Regions from separate parts of the Homo sapiens genome. Here region 1 is linked to region 2. The links come from fine-mapping of genetic effects on gene expression. A gene starts in region 2. The other region holds a variant in brackets. All regions are shown on one strand. Distances are from middle to middle.

Region 1 (10,145 bases), 21 kb after region 2:
GTGAGCTGTGCTCTGGCTCAAGGGCAGACACGGCACTGTGGGAGAGCTACCTGTAACTGGATCATGCGGGAAGGCTTCCTGAGAGATGGTCTCTTTGCCGTGCCTTGAGAGACAGGATTTTCCCTCATGAAGGGGACTAGGAGAAAAATGCATTCCCTAGTGAGGGAAGGGCCTGAGCAGACGCCTGGAGGGAGGAAGGACTAAAGAGTGGAGAGGAAACAGACATGTTTGGGAAGTTGGTGAGTTGGGGTGGAAACACGGAGCTTGAGGTGCTCAAGGGCCTTCCACTTGGGGGAGCTATTTAATCAGACATTACGCCTGAGCTGCTCCAAGGGCAAGGCCTGGGAGGAGGCTGTGTGTCAGCTTGGGTGGAGGCAGAAGGCAGGGTGTGCACGTGTTGGGGACGCCTCTGCTCCAAGCTGGGAGTCGCACAGATACCCCTTGCAGATGACGGGAGATAGAGTCAGGCAGTGCTGTGGGTAAGGAGCCTCGTTGCTTTACCCGCTCATACCCTAAACACCTGCCTTGCCCAGCCACAGTCCCAAGAATGGAAAAAGCACGTTCTGTGAAGCAGCCCCGGAGGGACCTCCTGGTGACCATTTCACAAAACACAGTCTCTACAGAACATTCAAAACAGTTTTTCGGAACTTTTTTTCCAGCAGGTTTTATGAACTAACAGCTCTTCCCCTCGAGTGTGAGAGCCTCCAGGCTGTCACCAGGAATATCACGAGCCATCGAGTCTGTGTGCTGATATGTCACTGCCCTCCCACAAAGTGGTCTGCAGTCCACGTATAAAAGTACAAAAGGTATGAAGCCTGCGGTGAAGAGCGCAGCATGGTTGAAGACACACATGGACCCTGGGGCCACCCCTGGACACCTGTCCCACAGCTCTGCTTCATGCCTGTCAGCAGCCTGTCTGAGACACCCTGCCAGCCCGGACTGGGCTTGCAGAGGGGGCTGTGTGCCCGCTCCCCACAGAAGCAAAGGCTCCGGGGCCCCCACACATGCCTCCCTACGCTCTCAGCCACGAAGAAAGTCATCTCCAGTCATCAGAGTTGGGGGCAGGCAGGCGAGAGTCATTCAGCAGCTGGTCCTGGCTCAGCATTGTCTGAAAAGGACACAGCCGAAGGGTCAGTTTAATAGAGTTTTGGTCCAGGCTGCCCTGCGGCAGCTGCACCGGAACTAGAGGGCACTGGGTGAGGGCTGCATCTGACACAGGTGCACTATAAGTTTATAGTGTCCCAAGAAACCCTGAGTATTGGGTCAGAATAAACAACACTATTAAGATAAAAATAAATTGTTCATCTTAGAAATAAATTTTCTATTTTCAGGCCACCAAAGGCCTAGATCATAAGGGCAAGTGTGGGCAGATTCCTTTCATGGGTGGGCCAATAAATAAAAACGTTGAGTAAAACTGATCCTGTTTGGAGTCAGGGAGACTTTCCTGTTTTGTCCTTGAAAACAAGGAGAGTCGTGTGTCCCTGTCCTTGTCCTGTCATCCCAATGGGCCTTGCTAGACAAGCAAGCAAAGTACAGGGACAGGGGCCTCGATGGGGACAGACACTATAGCCAATAGGCTCAGTGATGGAATGTCCAAGAACTAAAAGGCCTTGGGAGTGATGGATCCTCAAAAACAAATCCTGTGCTCTGTGGCTGGCCTTTTCCTGCCAGCTCTAGTCTGCCTATAAGCCTGGCAAGGAGGATGTCATTAGCCCTGCTTTACAGATAACTAAGCCAAAGCTCAGGAGAGAATGACATCCAAGGTCACAGAGCTAGTGAAGTCAGAGCAGGGACTTCAGCCTCACTCCAAAGCTGCTTTTCGAGGCCAAACTGCTTCCCCATGATATGGTTTGTCCTTTCGGGCGTGCCAGGATGTGCTCACAAGCCTGTCAACACTCTGTGATACCCACAAAGTCAGAGGCACGATAGGAAATGCATATGTCTCTGGGCAGAGGGTGGAAGTGTCCACTAGGACAGGATGCAGCCTGGGCTCTAGGCTGATGAGACAGGTGATCTAGAGTTGCTGAGCATCTTGGTTTCCTCATCTCTAAGCCTGGGAAGAGGACCTGAGATCTAGTGTGCTTTAGCTGGCTTTGGCTAACAGCCGATGAGCCTCCCCACTGCCCTTAGGGGCTCAAGGTCCAGTAACAGGCCAACAGAGAAGGCCCCTGGGCTGCTTTCTGCCTCGTGGCTGGCTCAGGCTCAGGCTGTGACCCCAGCACTAAGCACCATTCTTCGCCGTCCCCCAGGCCTTGTGCATACCACACCACACCACACCAAACTCACTGGGCCTCCCTGGCACCAGTCTGACTGTGGGGAGAGGGTCAGAGTCCTACCGTAAGGCGGTGAATGTCTTGGGAGAGGAGCCCTATCTGCGTCACGGTACCTTCCGAAGGTGCCATCTGTAAAATGGGCAGCAGCCTGGTCAGCACACATGGATGCAGCTTGTGATTCAGAGAGATGGCATGCAAGTCCTGTCGTGCTCAAGCCTGGCTTCTCCAGGGCATGCTTCTCTGGAGGGACAGGCAAGGAGTGGGCCAGGCCCTGAGGAGTGACAGGTGGGTGGAGCACATGCTGCTCCTGTTTCCTGGGGAAAGGCATCAATGTCCCACACTGCATGCATACCTCTCCTGGGGCCCCACTGGGAACTGGCATTCAGGGTACACAGAGGCAAGACACAAGCTTGTCAGAAGCAGCCCTTCTGCACGTGTTCAATGTTCCAGCTATTTCCAGGAGCAGAGAGCAGTAGGAATGAAGGCCTTCAGGATGCTAGACTCCTGCTACCAGGCAACAGGAGCTCAGACACCAATGCCCTGACATAGGTGGGCATCCTTCCTCACTACTCAAGAGCCTCCCTCCTGCCCCTCCTTCTCAGGTAATGCTGGTCTCTTCCTCCTTCCCTAAACCTACTTAGACACTGTAGATTTGGAAACATCCTCTGTAAATTTGGAGGGCACCAAGTGTAACCCCTCCCTTGTTTTATAGGTAGGAAAACAAGCCCACAAAGGGAACAGGACTTACTTGAGGGTGCAGAGAATCAGTGGCACAACAGTTCCATGCAGGTTTTGAAAACAGGCACATGCAGAGATCCCTGTACCGCAACATAAGAAACAAGGGACAAAGCCTGCCCTGACTGGCTCTACAACTCCAGTGGCCAGGCATCAGCCTGAATGAGCACTTGTCATCCAGTGGACCTGGGTACCAGGATCTATCAGCAGCATTGCCAGCTGGCAAGCTTGTCCCCACATCTCTCACCTCCCAGGAGGCAGTGGCCTGTGGCAACAGACCATGCCTGAGGCTGCTGGTAGTTTAAGAAGCAAATCTTAGCATAGCCTCCATCTGGTACAGAATCAGAGTGCTACAATGGAATGGAGTCATCAGGCCGTGCCCAGGCCATCAGACAGCGGTGACGTGGTGTTACTCTTCTGCGATGAGGCCCAGGGGATTGAGGGGAGCCAAGCACTGCCTGGGGGCAAACTAGAGTCTTCTGACCAGGAGTCCAGACTGGCAAGGCACATCTCTACCTCAGTCCCAGCCAGACAAGGCCCATCTGGAGGAGCCATTATCAGTCATTATCAGTCAGTCAGCCTCTAAATCAAGGGGACAGATCTCTTTCAGTTCTGCCAGCAGACAGACCAGCCCCCACCATGGTTATGAGCCTAGCTAAGTCAGTAATAGAGAAGCCAGCAAAACACATGAAAGAGAGTCTTTCCAGCAAGGTGCCTTCTTGTCTCCCCACCATCCCCTTCACTGGGGGGGCTCATGCCACTGAAAGCACTCAGCTTTGAGGTCTGCACGACAGATGGACCCTATGGTCAGGATGTGCATGAGACTTGAAGCCCCCTCGGCTTCACAGAGGGAAGCAAATTCTGAAGCAGTGCGGCCACGGACCTCCTCTGAAGGCTATGGGAGGGGGTCCCGCCTTGCTCTACCCCCCTGGTGAATCCTGAGCATGCACCTGGCTGAGGACTAGGCTCAGTGCCACCGGCTCTTCAGCTCTGCAATCCGTAGGACTCCATTTCCAGCTACCCTCAGCTCTTTTTCCCCAACAAAGTTAAAGATATGGTGAGCTGCTTGCTTTCCGCATAAATATTGCTTTTATTACAAGAAAGAAGAGACCACCTCTGAAGTAAGGCACAACACAATTCCATTGTCACTGTGGCAGAAGTCCCTGTTGCTCATCCCTTTGATCTCAGCCAAGACTGTGGTCCACGGGCCTAAGGCACTTGAGCTTTTCCCTCAACTGAAGTGTAGGGGGTGCCTGAGAGCTGAGCCTCGTGGGAGTGTCCATGGTCTCTGGACCTGCATCGAAGTTCATGTGTTTCCACTGGTGCTGAAGATGAACATCAAGAATTACTAGACATGTAAAAGTGTCTTTAAGTGTCTTTCCTCCTGAGTCCACCTTTGGCAATGGTCCCCAAAGCCTGGCCCCTTAGAGATGCAGCTCCAGATCCTGGCCACCCTCAGGGTTCAAAGAGACTGGCCCAGGGGTACACAATTGCTGGAATATTCTCTGCGAGTCATGCACACGTGCGGGGGTGAGGTGCAGTTATATGGTGACACACACAGTGTTACTGTGAGCTCTCAGGGTGCACAGAGGGCAGGTGACAAGGGCATCAGCTAATCTGTCCCACCTGGTCCAGCCCATCCAGTTCAGGGGCATCAAGGGGGCTGAGGCCCCGGTAGCCACTGTAGACCCTGTGACTATCACTGACACCGTCACTGGGCTCCATTGGGCAAATGTAGTCCGTCGATTCATCGAACTTCTTTTTTCTTATGTTTCCGAAGTGTGAAAATCCTAGTTTCCTTGGCTAAAACACAGAAAATGCAAGATTATGAGAAGGCAATCAAGGCAGTGTGCAGGTATGACTGACAATATACTTAAAATTTAAGAGCAGGCACTCAAGGAGAGGAATAATGTAAACTGCTCCTAGAAAGACTCTGAACAAAACAGAGCTCTTGGAAGCAATTTCTATGCTGCAGAAAGGCCAATAGGTAAATAATCTTGAACAATAAGAGCTGCCCCTCCAATACTATGCCTGAAACTCATGCCTGGCTGCCCCACCAAAGTGACTTTCTTATTTCCATAGATGAACTGGGAGTTCCTTTAGAATGTACTTGAGGTCTGCA[T/C]TTGAGGCGAAGCACAGAGAACTTGCCTCAGCACAGCTGCTGGCACCCCAACCCTTTCCCATCTCAGCACCTGGCACCATCTAAAGGCGCGTAGGATAGCCCCAGGTTGCTCCCTGCCCTAGCGTCATCCAGCACTGTTTCTGCCTGACTCCCCCAGACATACTTCCTGTCTTGCTCCCCTGGGGAAGGAGGTCTGTGCCTGAGTTGTAGCTGGGCATGAAGCATCAACACTACCAGGGATAGGACCAGCCTGGCCTCCAGAGGTTGCCTGTTGGTCTGTAGTCTGGGAAGAATGTGGTCTGAGGATGCTGTGGCTCAGGCAGGTCTAAAGGGCTTTGTGGGATTCTGGGAGCCCCAGTGAGTAGTGTTGGTGCTTGAAAGACCTGGGGACCTCTGGGTATCTGTGTGCTGGCCACTTCACGAAACAAGACAAATGGAACCAGCTTCCATTGGAAGCACTTCCTATATCAGCAGGACAGCTTTGACCAAGATCCCACGGCATTGCGGCACGCAGGCAGGCCTGACCGAAGGAAAGCCAGACTCGGAGCGCTTCCGCTCTGCAAGGTGAGTCACAGCAGCAGTGGGGTAGAGGACGAGCTCTAAGCCACCTGAGGATAGGTGCTTCCTGCACATATTTTCTAGGTAAAGAAACCTGCACTGTCTTCCTTGGACTCCAAACTGGTGGAGAACTGGCTTAACAAAGACTGGCCTCACAGACCACAAGCCCACAGCAGAAGCTGAAAGATCCTCTTTGTCCAGGCTGCGCATGCTGCTCTGGCTGTGGGCATCGCGCCAGGTGCTGTGCTGCGTGAGGGCCAGGAGGCAGCCCAGGGCCCACCCAGAAAGGCTCTGCAACTCACCCGGACTTTGGCTGTGGTGGTCAGTGGTGTGTAAGCTGGTGAGGCCATTTTCTCTCGCTTCTCCTGTTCAGCCTCCGGACCAATCAAGGCATTGAACTTGGTGGTCAGGTGGCGCCTGAGGAGCGTCTTTTGTGGGGGGATGTTGAGAAGCATAGCCAGGGTGTCCCCAGTGAAGCGTGGCTCCAGGATCTAAGAAGGAACCAGAGACAAGCCTGGCCAGGAGCAAATACAAATGGCTCGAGGGGGAGGATGCTGAGAGACTGGCCTGTTGGGGCTGGGGGTGCCTCCAGAGGAGGGACAGGAGCTCAGTCACTTGTTCTGAGTCCCACTCCACTCACTGGCTGGCACAGGGCCTGGCTCTGAGCACATACTAGCACATGTGCTGACTGACCACCTTGTTTTCACAGACCAGCAGAGAACTGGGACCTCTTTGGTGAGGCTGTCTCTCAGGATCTTCTCTGGATGACATCCAAGCCACCACACTTCCTCATTTCCCCTCTGGCTTTGCCACTGACAGATCTGAGTAGTGATAGGGATCCTATTGCAGCAAGTGGGAAGCTGCATTTTTACGGCTTCCCCGTCCCTTCCTCAGCCCTGCTGTTCCCTCGCCTTGTAAGCGTTGGTCTCCATGCAACCCATCGACCTAGAATCCTCAAGTCTCATGCCAAGGAGGTGCTGCCAGAAGGCATCTTGCTTCCATGAGGTATATTAATTCTCAAGGACAAGTTATCAAAATACTTTGAGACATCAAATTATGCAAGACCTCCAGATGAAGTACCTATTTTTTTTCGTTAGCTTTTGTGCCTTGTCCTTAATAAATAAGTTTCTGAATATCCCATTTGCACCAAGGCAGGTGGGCTAGGCCAGAGAGCCACTCACAATGAGGCCTCCATGGACTCCACTCCCTCGAAGATTGGGTGCATACTCTGCCAGGTCCACAGATCGTAACCACTCCATCACCCTGTGGTTGGACCACTGTACAACTTCTGAAGGAGAAAGGTTACTCTGTCAGAGGGAGAAGGAGAGTGAGGAAGTTAGGCTTAATAGGTCCCACCATGGTCCTCTGTGGAGTCAGCCCCGGTAAGTAACCCTGCCCCAGACGCATCACAACAATAGAAGGCCCTCAAGCTTAGTGACCCACCCCATCTGCCAGAGCACCAGCCTCCCCAGTTTCTAGGAAATAGAGCTCCCACTGAATCTTTGAAGATCTTCCACACTGAGATATCTGAATCCAGAATTCTGTTACTCCATCATTTTCCAGCTAACTTTGAGACAAATAAATGAGGACATTATAGTTATTCTTTCAGTGATTCAACAGAACTTTAAAGATGACTGTCAATTTTACAATCCAAGTGGTTTATAGATGAAAGATCTCCCTGGTGTGGCCAATGATTTTAGGGGAGCACACCTTAAGGTACTTATTCCTAAGTGCTCTCACGTAGCACTGTGGTCTTAAAAATGCACAGCGCTGTGCCTGACATATACAAGACATTCAAAACATGTTGGTTGAATAAGGAGAAAATAGGAGATAGACAGCAAAGGTAGCAGCCCAGGAAGCTGAGTTAATTTTACAGCAAGGTTAGACCTAGTTCCCAGGAACAGAGGAGATAGGATGTGACTGACAATCTTCAGTTTGGGGGTCCACCAAGAACTCCGAAGTTCATGGAACATAATCAGTTATTTCTTCAAGACTTGGGGTGCTGTTATTTACGTATACTATTTCTTCTCTAGCAAGACTACTCATGGATCCCCTGTACCTGGGCCTGGAAGTCAGTTAATTTTGGATCTACAAGTAGGGATACCTATTCTGAAATGTCTAGCTTCTACGGGCTCCTCTTCCCCCTCCTCTGTCTCTTCTCTTCTCTTCTACTGTGACACCCATCTTTCCATTTTGTCTTTCCCTCCCCCTCTCCTTTGCACCATCTCCTCATCTCCTTTAATCACTATGATGACTTTATAGCATGTGTCTCCCCAGTGGAGGGTGGGAGCTTAGAGGTCTATGGCTACTGTGAGACACAAAGTGCAGGTAACGGATGTTTGGGGCAACAGGAAGCACAAGCAAACAAAAGAATCCCAGGCACCATGGTGCAAAAAACAGTGCTTTTATGATGTCATTCTTGTTTGCTCATGCTCGATGTTTCAGGGGTCCTGGCTCAGGGCTACCTGGAGAGATACTATTTGTGGTCTCACCTCATCAGCTGGCCGCCGGTGCAGGCAGTGGGGGTTGAACTTGTTGACATGCAGCACGTGAATGGCACATTTGATGCTGAGATGATGTAGTTGGCTGGTGACTTTTAAGAAGAGTAAATCGTTCTGAAAGAGGAAAGTTTGGTTTATAAACCAGAGTTTCCAAAGTGACAAAAGACCCCTGATGTCCCTCACCAGACCAAGCATAGACAAGTCAACCACATCTCAGGAAGGTGCACGTGGAGACACCAATAGCTTATCACAGTGGTTTGTACTCTGCTACTTGGGACCTCTTTTGTGACAAATGATACTATTTCAAGGCCTTAAGAATATATGGAATCAAGTTTAAAATAACCACCATGGGTACACGTGAGCTGAGTGCTCACAGGGACAACTGAAATATTTAAAGAAAAAGTCCTCACCACAGTTAGGTATTGCAGCATTCGTCTGTCAACTCTAGATTCATGAAACTGGTCTTTGTACTGGGGTAAGCCAATATCATCAAGCCACCCTACAAATACAAAAACCCCAGATGTGTCAGGATTCATGAGAATGAGAGAATGTAGACACCAAAAAAAGGGGAGCAAATTATATTTTGAGGTTCGTTTTATTCCCCCAAAAGTTTAGTAATTCCTCTGCTTTTTACAAGGAGACAGCTGTCCTTGAGGTACCCATTTAACAGGAAAATTCTTTCTACTCTTAGTTGCTGCCAGAGACATTCTTAATACATATATGCCTATCCTTACTTGTCACCCAAATGTGGTCTAGCAGTGCAGACTTCTCCTCCTGTTTGGTGTTGATGGCTTTCACTGCTAAAACAAGCTTCTTCCTGTGGAGTGGGTGCTTAATTCCTAGCTCCTGAAATTAAAAGATGAAGACCACATGTGAAATTTTGGCAGGCAATTTGGCCCTCAGAGAAAGCTGTGTCTGGGTGGAGATGCTCTGAGTATGGCAGTGTATCTCCACACCGTGCCCTGGGATGCCAACCTGCAGCTACAGAGGAACTCTCAGCCTCCTCCATCCATCCTCCTGTGTGTATGTGTGACAGGAGTGGCGGACCCTGGCCTCCCCATGCTTTGGGGAGAAATGGGAGCCTCCTCTCCCCAAGCTGAGCCCTTACCTTTTCCATGTCCTGAGGGGTGGCTGTCAATAAGGTGTGGCCAGAAGATACCCACTGCCTGGCAAAGATCACATACTGAGCCAGGCCAAAGTCCTCCAGCCATGCACACACACGCTCTGTGCTCCACTGGGCAAAGGGGGCATTGGCGTCACTGGGAAGCAGGAAAACAGCATATTCCTGTTAGTGGGAGAGCCTGAGGTTCTGAATCTAATCATGTCTCACAAACAAAAGAAAAGAAAAGAAAAAACAAAACAAAAAACCTGTTTTTTAACAAACAACCTCCATCATGGGATTCTGCTGAACAAAATTCCACTACAACACACTCATAGGAGGTAGACCCTAGAGTTTTCTTAATAACACAAGATCTGAATTTCAAATCTCAGGCTACTTAGAGAATGGGGCAGCCTGTATGGCCCTCCTGAGATCATGTTCACATGTCCTAGGTCCGCATACACACATATACATGCCACAAGTCCAGAGCTGTGGCCTCATTAGGCGGAATCATCTTTTTAGGAAAATGCTTAGAAAACTACTTTTCTTAGCATTTAAGAGGGTCAGTTCTCTTAACATTAAAAAGAAAAAAAACAAAACACCCAAAACTAAAAGCAAAAACTTGCCAATCAACAACAGCTAGCACATTACTTATTAACAAAACAGGAGGAACATTCACATTAAAGTCAATAAAAGGACAATATATTTTTCATCAGTACTAACAACACTGGTCTGAGAGTCATAGCCAGTATTAGAGATAAATAAGAACAAGAAGTATAGCTATTAGGCAGAAATAAAGCCATTCTTTACAGATGTCAGGACTGCCCATTTAGAAAACCCAAGAAAGCTCAGTGAGG
Region 2 (10,145 bases):
ATTTATATAGAGGATAAAATGGAAATAAATTATTTTCAAGATTAAACACTTAATGAAAAGTTCACAGCTGCCTGGAAACTGTTTTGAGAGCAAACATTCATTTAAAAAAAATGTTTGCCTTTTATTTTAGATCCAGAGGGTGCATGCACAGGTTTGTTCCATGCATATTACTGCACGATGCTGAGGTTTGGAGTACAAATGATCGCGTGACCCAGGTAATGAGAATATTAGCCAATAAGTAGTTTTTCAGTCCATGCCTCCTTCCCTTCCTCTCCCTTCTAGCAGTCCCCAGTGGCTACTGCTCCCATCTTTATGTCCATGTGTGCTCAATGCTTAGCTCCCACTTATAAGTGAGAACATGCGGCATTAAGTTTTCTGTTTCTGTGTTAATTCACTTAGGATAATGGCCTCCAGCTGCACCCACATTGCTGCAAAGAATATGATTTTGGTTTCTTATGGCTATGTAGTATTCCATGGTGTATCTGTACCACATTTTCTTTTTCCATTCCACCACTGATGGGCACCTAAGTGGATTCCATGTCTTTGCTATTCCGAACAGTGCTTTGATGAACATGTAAGTGCATGTGTTTTTTTGGTAGAGTGATTTATTTGCCTTTGGGGATATATCCAGTAATGGGATTGCTGGGTCAAATTGTAGTTCTGTTTTCAGTTCTTTGAGAAATCTCCAAACTGCTCTCCACAGTGGCTGAGCTAATTTACATTCCCACCAACAGAGTATAAGCGTTCTCTTTTATCCACAGCCTCACCAACATCTGTTATTTTTTGACTTTTTAATAATAGCCATTCTGATTGGTGCAAGACGGTATCTCATTGTGGTTTTTATTTGCATTCCTCTGATGATTAGTGATGTGGAGCATTTTTCCATATGGCAAACACTCATTGACCAATGACTTGGGCAGGACATCAGTTCCCTCCAGAGGTACTCAGCAATGAAGGAGGCCTCGTTCCTGCACAGGAAGAGCTGAATCTTGTGGGGTGGAGTCTCACAGATGTTCAAACAGTGACAACAGAGGTTCATCTTGTTTTGTTTTTTTTTCCTCAGCAAACGCTTGTTGAGAGCCTACCCTTGCCAGGCCCTATTATCAAGCTGGGGATTTACAGACATGAGACTTGTGCTCATGGTTTATTTCAGGGGATTAGTAGAAAATGAGCCAAAATCCAGGCAGCACATGAGCATGTGAGGGACACATTTACAGTGTTTACGAGTTAGGAGAAGAGAGGCGAATCACTGCCCTTTCAAGATTACTGGGAGCCCAGAAAAATGCCTTTTATCCTGCTCCAAGAATGAATAAAGAGAATGTGCTTGCTATCTGCCTCTCTAATAACACAGAGGGAACAGGCAGAGAAAATGAGAGGGAAGAATGAAGGGTAGAAACAAACTACTAAGAAAACCACAGGAAAAGGTGAGGTGCCTCCGGATTTCAAAGCTACAAGTAAAAGCTTTTGACAGAGTCCAAGGGGGAAAACAATGTTTGTTCATTCATTCATACATACATGCAATAAGTATTTATTGAGCATCTACCAATTGCCAGACACTGTTCTAGGGATATAGCAGTAGTTAAAACAGACAAAGTAACTCCTATCCTCATGAAGCTTACGATACGGTTTGGCTGTGTCCTCATCCGAATTTCAACTTGAATTGTAGTTCCCATAATCTCCATATATTGTGGGAGGGACCCAGTGGGAGGTGGTTGAATCATGAATCATGAGGGCAATTCCCCTCAGGCTGTTGTGATAGTGAGTGAGCTCTTACAAGATCTGATGGTTTTATAAGGGGCTTTTCCCCTTTTGCTCAGCACTTCTCTTTCCTGCTGCCATGTGAAGAAGGATGTGTTCACTTCCCCTTTCGCCATGATTTTATAAGTTTCCTGAGGCCTCCCCAGCCAAGCTGAACTGTGAGTCAATTAAATCTTTTTCCTCTGTAAATTAGCCAGTCTCGGGTATGTCCTTATAGCAGCATGAGAATGGATTAATACACTTACATTCTATGTAACAAATAAGTAAAATATGTTGTATAGGTAAAAAAATATATCATCTGGTGCTATGTCTTATGGAGACAAATTAAGCAAGGAAGGGGGACAGAGTGCGATGGAAAGGATTATTCCTCTCCTAGGTGAAGAAGTATTTATGGAGTGTCTATCATGTGTGCTAAATGCACACATAAGGCAGAGATGAATTCATTCATTTGTTCATTAAATATTTATTGCATGCTTTCTTTGTGACAGTCAGTGTGCTAAACCCTAGGAAAACAAGGTGTCTGCCATAAAGGAACTTCCAGACTAGTGTGAAAGTCAGTCATTCAATAACGCACTGTTCAAATGCACAATTACAAACGAAAGTAAAAGCTATGAATAGGGCCGTGTGTGGTAGCTCACACCTAAAATCTCAGGACTTTGGGAGGCCAAGGAGGAAAGATCCCTTGAGGCTAGGAGTTCCAGGCTGTACTGTGCAATGATCATACTTCTGAATAGCCATTGCTCTCCACCCTGGGCAACAAAGTGAGACCCTTATCTCTACAAAAAATACAAAAATTACCCAGGCATGATGGCAACAGTCCTTGCTACTCAGAGGCTGAGGCTGGAGGCTAGCTTGAGCCGGGGAGTTCAAGGTTGTAGTGATCTATGATCGTGCCATTGTACTCCAGCCTGGGCAACAGAGTGAGACTGTCTCTGAAAAAAGAAAAAAAAAGCTATGAATAGAATAGTTAAACGAAAAGAAAAACTAAATTTAACAGAGTTTAATTGAGCAAAAATCAAGTTATGAATCAGGCAACCCTAAGAACCAGAATAGGTTCAGAGCAACTCTGGGGCTGCCACGTGGTTGCATAATACTTATGGACAGAAACAGGAAAGTGATGTACAGAAAACATAAGTGAGGTACAGAAACAGCGGGATTGGTTACAGCTCATGATTTGCCTTACCTGAACACAGTCTGAACAGTTGGCTGCCTATAATGGGCTGAAACTTCCATGATTGATACAAGAGTAGGTTACAGTTCACTATGTACGAAGAAACTTTTAGGGTGAAACTAAAACATTAAGGAGGCAGCTTTAAGTTAAACTTAACAGATTATAATATGTACATGTACTTAAGTTGGGGGATCACAGCAGGCATCTCCAAGGGAGTGATATCTGACCTGAGATCTAAAGAATGTATAAGAATGAAAGACATAAACACTTGTTGTAAACTACCGTAACTAAAACAGTGTAGTATTGCGACAAGGTTGGGCAGCTAGATAATGTAAGAGAAATGGGAGGCCGGAGCTAGACTCACACACCTATGAAAACTGATATAGGCCAGGGGTAGCAGGTCAGTTGCAGGTCAGTGGCCAGATGTGAGCAATTCAATAAATGTTACTGAAAAACACACATTAGCCACATGGAAAAATGAAATTGTATCCCTGCCTCACATCCTACACAGAAATCAATTCCAAGTGGTTGAAAAACTTAAATGTGAAAGGAAAATCTTTAAATCTTGTTGGGGAAAATATAGAATATCTTTAAGGGCTTGGGTAGAAATAGACAAGTCACAAAAATCACTAACCATAACGGCAAAAAAATTGAAGATTGGTATATTTGGTTATACTGCAATTCAAATTTCTATTCATCAGACTACACCACAAAAAGGTGGGACAGAAAAGAAAGAAAGAAAAAAGAAAGAATAAGTTACAAATTACGAGAAAACATTACTAATTCATGTAACTGGCAAAGAAGGGATATCTAAAACATATAAAACCCCTAAAAATCAGTAAGAAAAAGACAACAGAAAAATGAGCAAAATTTATGAGCAGGCATTTTTTTTTTTCTGAAAAGGAAACTCCATGGGAAATAAATATATGAAAGGTGCTCAAACTTATTAGCAGTTATTAGGTAATGCAAATTGGATTCCTGATACATCATTTTACACTTATCGCATTGTCAAAAATTAAAATATCTGCCTATAATAACCAAGCACCTGCAGGTAAATCAAAAGTAAAGGCATTTGATTAAGTCAAAGAGAGAAAATTAAGTTTGTTTATTCATTCACACAGCAAGAATTTTTGAGCCTGTGGTGGTGTGTGTCTTGGGGAGAAGGGTTGGTAAAGTGTTATGGGTTATTGTTTTCACCCTGATTCTTATGTTGAAGCCCTAAGCCCCAGTACCTAAGGATATGACCTTATTTGAAGGTAGAGCCTTTACATAGGTAATCAAGTTAAAACAAGGTCATTAGGATGGACCCTAATTGAATATGACTGGTGTCTTCATAAAAGGGGAAATTTGGACACAGGGACACACACAGAGGGATGAAAATGTGGAGACATAGGAAGAAGATGCCCCTTCTCCTAGCCCCTCTCCTACAAACCTAGGAGAGGCATGGAACAGATCCTTCCCTCACAGCCCTCAGAAGGAACCCACTCTGCCCACACCTTGATTTTGGACTTCCAGCCCCCAGACCTGCGAGACAATAAATTTTTGTTGTTTAAGCCGCTCAGTCTGCGGCACTTTGTTACAGCAGCCCTAGCAGAGTCAAACAGGTGGGGATCTGCTTCTGGGCTTCTCTGTTTCACACAGGTCCTGAGGCAAGAATTTGCCTTTGCCTGTAATCAAGGGCGAGCCGGGCAGCCAAGGTTCCGAAACGCACCGTGAAGACCCTCTAACTGTGCCTACTATTCTGCTCCCCTCCGATCGGCGCGGGGCTCTTGTCCTTCCTCTCTCCACCCAGCGAATGAATGAACGCAGGAGCGCTCGGAGTACACGTCTTCAACTCGGCGACGCCCCTGCTTCGGCCCCACCCCGCAAACACCCGCCCCGGACCAGGCCCAGGGTAGGCGCCCATGAGGTATGTCGAATGAATATATTCGCGCGCTCTTTGCAGCTGCCTGAATTCTTCCTTCCCCAGCATCCCCCTCCGCCCGGTCACCCAGACGGCCTTCTCCAGCCTTGCCGAGCTTAAGTAAGCTGAGGGGCGCTCAGTGTGGCAGCTCTGCGTGTGCAGGGAAGGGGCCAGGATGCAGAGGGGCAGCGCAGGAGCGAGGACGCCACGGCTCAGCGCCCCGCCAGCCTCATGATGGAGCGCTGCCCTGGGGGCAGGGCTGACCCAGAGCCAGCGGCTCGTGAGTGAGAGCCCCCCGACCACGGCCCTTCTCGGGGAGCGGGCCAGCCGCCGGGGTCCCAGCCTGCGGGGTCCGCCCGCGCTTTTGTCCTCCCGGGCGTGCGTGTCCGGGTCTCGGCCGGTTCCCCGTCGGCCAGGCGGAGCTGCGGGGCGACGCCACGAGTCTGCGGGCCCGCGGCGGGGAGCGGCCCCCGGCCAACCCCAGTTCGACGACGTGTTGGGCGTCTCACTCCGGGTGGGTTCCGCGGCGGGGTGTATTTATGGAGTATTGAAGAAATATCTCCGTCGGGACGGCCGGAAGGAAAGAGGCCAGAGGCGCGGAGGCCGGCTAGAGCCGGGAACGAACGTCCGACCGGGAGGTTGGGGGCCGGAGCGGGAGGCGTGGGGAGAGGTCGTGGGCGGGACCGCGAAGGGCGGGGAGTGGGGCGGGCCGGCTCGGATTCCGGAAGGCTGAGACTCCAGTGACCCGGCGGGAGGAGAGGCAACTTTCCCTGTCGGGCTTGAGTTGGGAGAGGAGCAGGGCGGCCTTGTAGGGTAGGGACAGATGCGGGGAGGCTCCCGAGTCTCTGGCAGTTGAGTGCCCAGGCCCCCTTCGCCCTGTCCAGGAGACTGTTGGGGAGTCCCCAGGCCCTAAGTCACGGGGCACCTCTTAGAGCTACGCACCCTAGTTCTGTCTTTAGGGACTGGGCCCCTCATTCCGGATTGTGTGTTAGGGGTGATGTCCTCCCCCTTCACCTCAAGGAAGGGACTTCCAGTGTATGAACCTTTGGCTGTAGCCAGGAGGGGCCTAGTGACCTGAGCACCCCAGGCCATGTGTGCTGCCTGCTCCAGGGGCCTGAAACATCCTTCCTGTGTGACCTGCAGCTGACCCCTCCCTACCCTCTGGTCCACGACAGGCTCTCCCAGCCGCCTTCTGTGTCACTACTGTTCTCTTTGCCTATTTCCTGCAGGCAGAGCTCAGCTCCTGTGCCTTTGGTGTGGGGAGGGTGTTCTGCGCCTGAGAGCTGCCCTGTCCAGGGCGGGCAAGACCTGAGGTGCTCTGTTCACATTGTGTCTGCCAGGACCCGTCCCTGCTCCTGACCATCACCGTCACTGGGGTCACTGTGCTCGTGTTGGTCCTGAAGAGCATGAACTCCAGGAGGAGAGAGCCAATCACCTTACAGGACCCTGAAGCCAAGTACCCGCTGCCCTTGATTGAGAAAGAGGTAATGGGTCAGCCCTGTGGGTGGAAGGCAGTAAGTGGATGATGGCTGGGATGGCAGGGCATCCAGACAGTCATCTCATGGCCTCCAGTTCACTCCCCGCCGCCCTGTGTGTGTGTGTGTGTGTGCTGGAATAGCGCCAAACGGACCTCCTTTCCCAGGCATCTCAGCTGCCCAGCAAGGCTTCTAGAAAGCTGACAGAACCTGCCTATGTTTTGTTTTATCAGAAAATCAGCCACAACACCCGGAGGTTCCGCTTTGGACTGCCTTCGCCGGACCATGTCTTAGGGCTTCCTGTAGGTGAGCCGGGCTTGGGTCATCACCAGGACTGGGGCCTCTGGGGGCTAGGCCCTCCTCTCTTAACAGAAACACAGGTTTCCCACGTCCTGAGGTGTGGAAGATGCCCTCTTGCTCCTCCTGAGCCTGTGAGCTCAGGGAGATAGATAGGGGGATGGATGTGGGACAGAAAATTTCTTTTCTTCATTATTCCAATTGGGCTGACACGAGAGTGGTACCTCAGTGAGCATTGAAAAGAACTGAACCTAGAGCCAAAAGGCCTAAAATCTCATGGAAGGCTCCTTGCTGGGGAACTTAAGGGAAGTCCTTCAATCTCTCTGAGCCTCAGTCTATGAAATGGGATTTCCCAGGCCTGCCTGTCTACCTCACTTGGGTTGTTGTGAAAGTAGAGTGACTGATGGATATGAAAATTCAGAAACTACAAAGTATTGTGCACCTGGGAGGGATGGGAGGAACCAGTGGTCGGGGAAAGGCCCAGAATGTGCGGGTAGGCAGGAATGAGTCAGGTGTGCCCTGCCCCCAAGGTCACTTAGATTCTCTGCAGGGGCCTCAGACCCACATAAGGAGGGACCAGCCCTACGAGTTGCAGATTCCAGCCCTAGGAGTCCTAGAGTTGAGTTATCCCATTTCTAATCTGTAACACCACTAGATAGCTGAGTCAGTCTTAGTGCAGTAGAAAACTGCTAGAATCAGGGATTCAGAGCAGCTTTGTATAATCTGCTAGTGCTGCTTGCCTGCCTGGTGGATCCTACTCCGTGGCCTATTTGTCTTATATGCACAGGCCAAAACCTTGACCTCAGCTCTATCAGGTGGTGAGATTACACTCTAGCCAGCTCGCTGGGCCCCTGAGCCTCCTTGCTGTTCCCTCACTCCATCTCTATGCACGAGAGCTCAGTGTTGTGCGTGCCGTCTCTCAGCTCCCTGCTCGGCCTGTCAGGCAGGTCCTGTTGGCAGGAAGCCTAAAAGAATGAAAAACTTTGAGATAGAGAATTGCTTAGAAACTGCCTTGACCCACTATCTCCTCAGCCTTGGCCTAGGCCGTGCAAAGTTAGTGGGACAAGGTAATGTAGAGGCCTCTGGGAGAGTCTAATATGAGGCCTCAGAGTTCGCTGCTTCGTCCCAGCCCAGTGGAAGTGAAGCAAGTTAGAGATGGGGCTTGAAGGACCAGCCAGGGAGCCCCATTTGCCCTGGGGACACCCTCAGGCCAGGCCTAGGTGGCTGCATATGAAAGAGCCTTTCCAGGTTTCCAGTTTCAGGTTCTCAGAAGGAAGCTAGGTGTCTCACTTACTCCTGGCTATCCCTGGTGCCCAGAGGGACCATGACCAGAGTCATTGAGCCTGTTCTGAGCCCAGAGTGTTGGCACCTCAAAGACTTGGCTCATCCCCTTGAATCAGCTTCAGGGACCAGCCCCTCTAGTGCCTACTCTGCCTGCTTTTTTCTCCTCCTGCCTCCTCCTCCTCCCTGCACCTTAGGTCTTGGTTTCTATCCATCTCTCTGTTCCATCTTCCTTGTCTCGACTAATTTCCCGTATGTAGTCCACTCAGTTTCTGAGCGAGTAGAAACTGAGGGAGTAAACTGACTACATACATACAGGAAGTTAGTCAAGGGTTAGGGTTACAAAACTTTCTCTTGCCTCTAGCTCTTAGTATCTCTTGATTGCACTCCTGTCCCTGCCACTAATTGCCTTAGTAATTTGAGTCTCACATTTTGGATCCAACAGGTCGTAGCTGCCCAGTGTGTCATCTGACAGTGGGATGTAGTCATGATCCATAGGTCTCTGGCCACACCTGGTTTATTGAATTCTACCCAGGAAGGGCAGAGTTACATGGTTAAAAACTTCACTGCTACTCCTCACAAGGCCATAGGCCAGGAAGACATGATATTGTTGTTTCATTTGCTCCATGGGTACCCAAATCCTAGGGCCCTGTAGTATCTGTGAGCCCAGGCCTGCTCTGTGCCTAGTACCAGGATACAGATGGAGTAGTTGTAATTTATTCACAGATCTCAGTGATACATCCAGTTTAGGAAGAAAGGAGTTTGTGAAGGCCACATATTTTTCTTGAATAGACAAATATTCCTTTCTAATTTTTTTTTTTTTTTTGAGACAGGGTCTCATTCTGTCGTCCAGGCTGGAATGCAGTGGCACAGTCTCAGCTCACTGCAGCCTCGACCTCCTGGGCTCAGGTGATGCTCCCACCTCAGCCTCCCAAGTAGCTGAGACTGTGGGTGTGCACCACCACACCTGGCTAATTTTTTGTATTTTTTTGTAGAGATGGGGTTTCGCCATCTTGCCCAGGCTGGTCTCGAACTCCTGAGCTCAAGCAATCCACCCGCCTCTGGGCTGGGATTACAGGCGTGAGCTACCATGTCTGACCCCTTTCTGTAATTTTTAATACTCACTCTCCAACTTTAATGATCTTTTCCTGCTCCAAAAAGCAGTTACACTAAGATCACAGGTGGGCAGACATATCACCCCCATTTTACAGATGAAGAGACCAAAACCCAGAGAGGTGAAGTGACTTGCCTAGGGTAGCACAGGGAGGCAGGGCAGGCCTAGGATCCGGGCATCCCATATTTGGGTTCCTTCCCTGCTCTCTTCTTCCCACCCCTCTTAACATTGTGCCCCCAGTATTTGCTCCCTTCACTGAAGCTCAGTCCTTTATTCCTGGGCCTTATTTAAGCTAAATATGCTTTGACTCAGTGCTTGATGCCTTTTCTATAGGTAACTATGTCCAGCTCTTGGCAAAAATCGATAATGAATTGGTGGTCAGGGCTTACACCCCTGTCTCCAGTGATGATGACAGAGGCTTTGTGGACCTAATTATAAAGGTAAATAGTGCCCACCATATCTGGCTAGCTCGTGCTTCCAAGCCTACTGAGGGTGGTGGGGTGGAGGGGCAGTGCTTTTTCTCTGAGGGCACATATGCCCTAGGCAGGGCTTTCCAGCAGTGAAGCTACAGTTAACCTTGTGGCAGCTTCATCTTCAGGGATTGCGTACAACAATTCAGAGAGGAGAACACTTTCTCTGCAAAGCTTCCAGCAGTAAATGCATTTTCTAGTTGTACGTGGCTGTGGCATTGTGTCTGGGAATGTGAAAGCAGTGCTGCCTTGCTTTTCAGATCTACTTCAAAAATGTACACCCCCAATATCCTGAAGGTGGGAAGATGACTCAGTATTTGGAGAACATGAAAATCGGGGAGACCATCTTTTTTCGAGGGCCAAGGGGACGCTTGTTTTACCATGGGCCAGGTACTGGAGGGGTTAATACTTGGGCTCCCAGCTGGGAGGAAGATTCCTGCAATGGTTCCATTGTTCTCGTACACTCCTCAGATTTGAGTCACATGGGGTTGTCCTTAGTCTTCATTCATTCACACACAATGCATAATGATCACACTTGTTACACATTCACACACCCACTTCATGAGGTTGTCAGCTTTTGTAAGGTAGGGGAATGACTTGGTGTTTCCTCGTCATTGTATCAAAATCTCCAGCACAATGCCTGATACATAAATGGTGCCTGCTAATACTGAAAAAT

The links.
Region 1: its variant is fine-mapped to the expression of CYB5R2 in whole blood (TOPMed, PIP 0.98).

The regions. Positions count from the first base shown.
Region 1 is chr11:7,647,690-7,657,834 of GRCh38, reverse strand. It overlaps PPFIBP2 (PPFIB scaffold protein 2), which reads right to left. Exons shown (of 24, transcript NM_003621.5): 18 at 9,298-9,448; 19 at 8,924-9,035; 20 at 8,600-8,688; 21 at 8,181-8,303; 22 at 6,870-6,995; 23 at 5,991-6,179; 24 at 4,079-4,811. The coding sequence ends at 4,617. Among named protein-coding and RNA genes, the nearest start is that of CYB5R2, 21 kb to the left of the region's middle. RefSeq lists an enhancer at 5,763-6,962. The variant T/C (reference allele first, on the strand shown) is at 5,131.
Region 2 is chr11:7,668,919-7,679,063 of GRCh38, reverse strand. CYB5R2 (cytochrome b5 reductase 2) reads left to right here and starts at 5,564. Exons shown (of 9, transcript NM_016229.5): 1 at 5,564-5,645; 2 at 6,173-6,316; 3 at 6,541-6,613; 4 at 9,333-9,439; 5 at 9,730-9,859. The coding sequence starts at 6,239. LOC105376533 (a long non-coding RNA gene) reads right to left here and starts at 2,604. Exons shown (of 11, transcript XR_007062576.1): 1 at 2,557-2,604. It also overlaps a transcript of OVCH2 not described here. RefSeq lists a silencer at 5,052-5,261 and enhancers at 5,782-5,881, 5,902-5,951.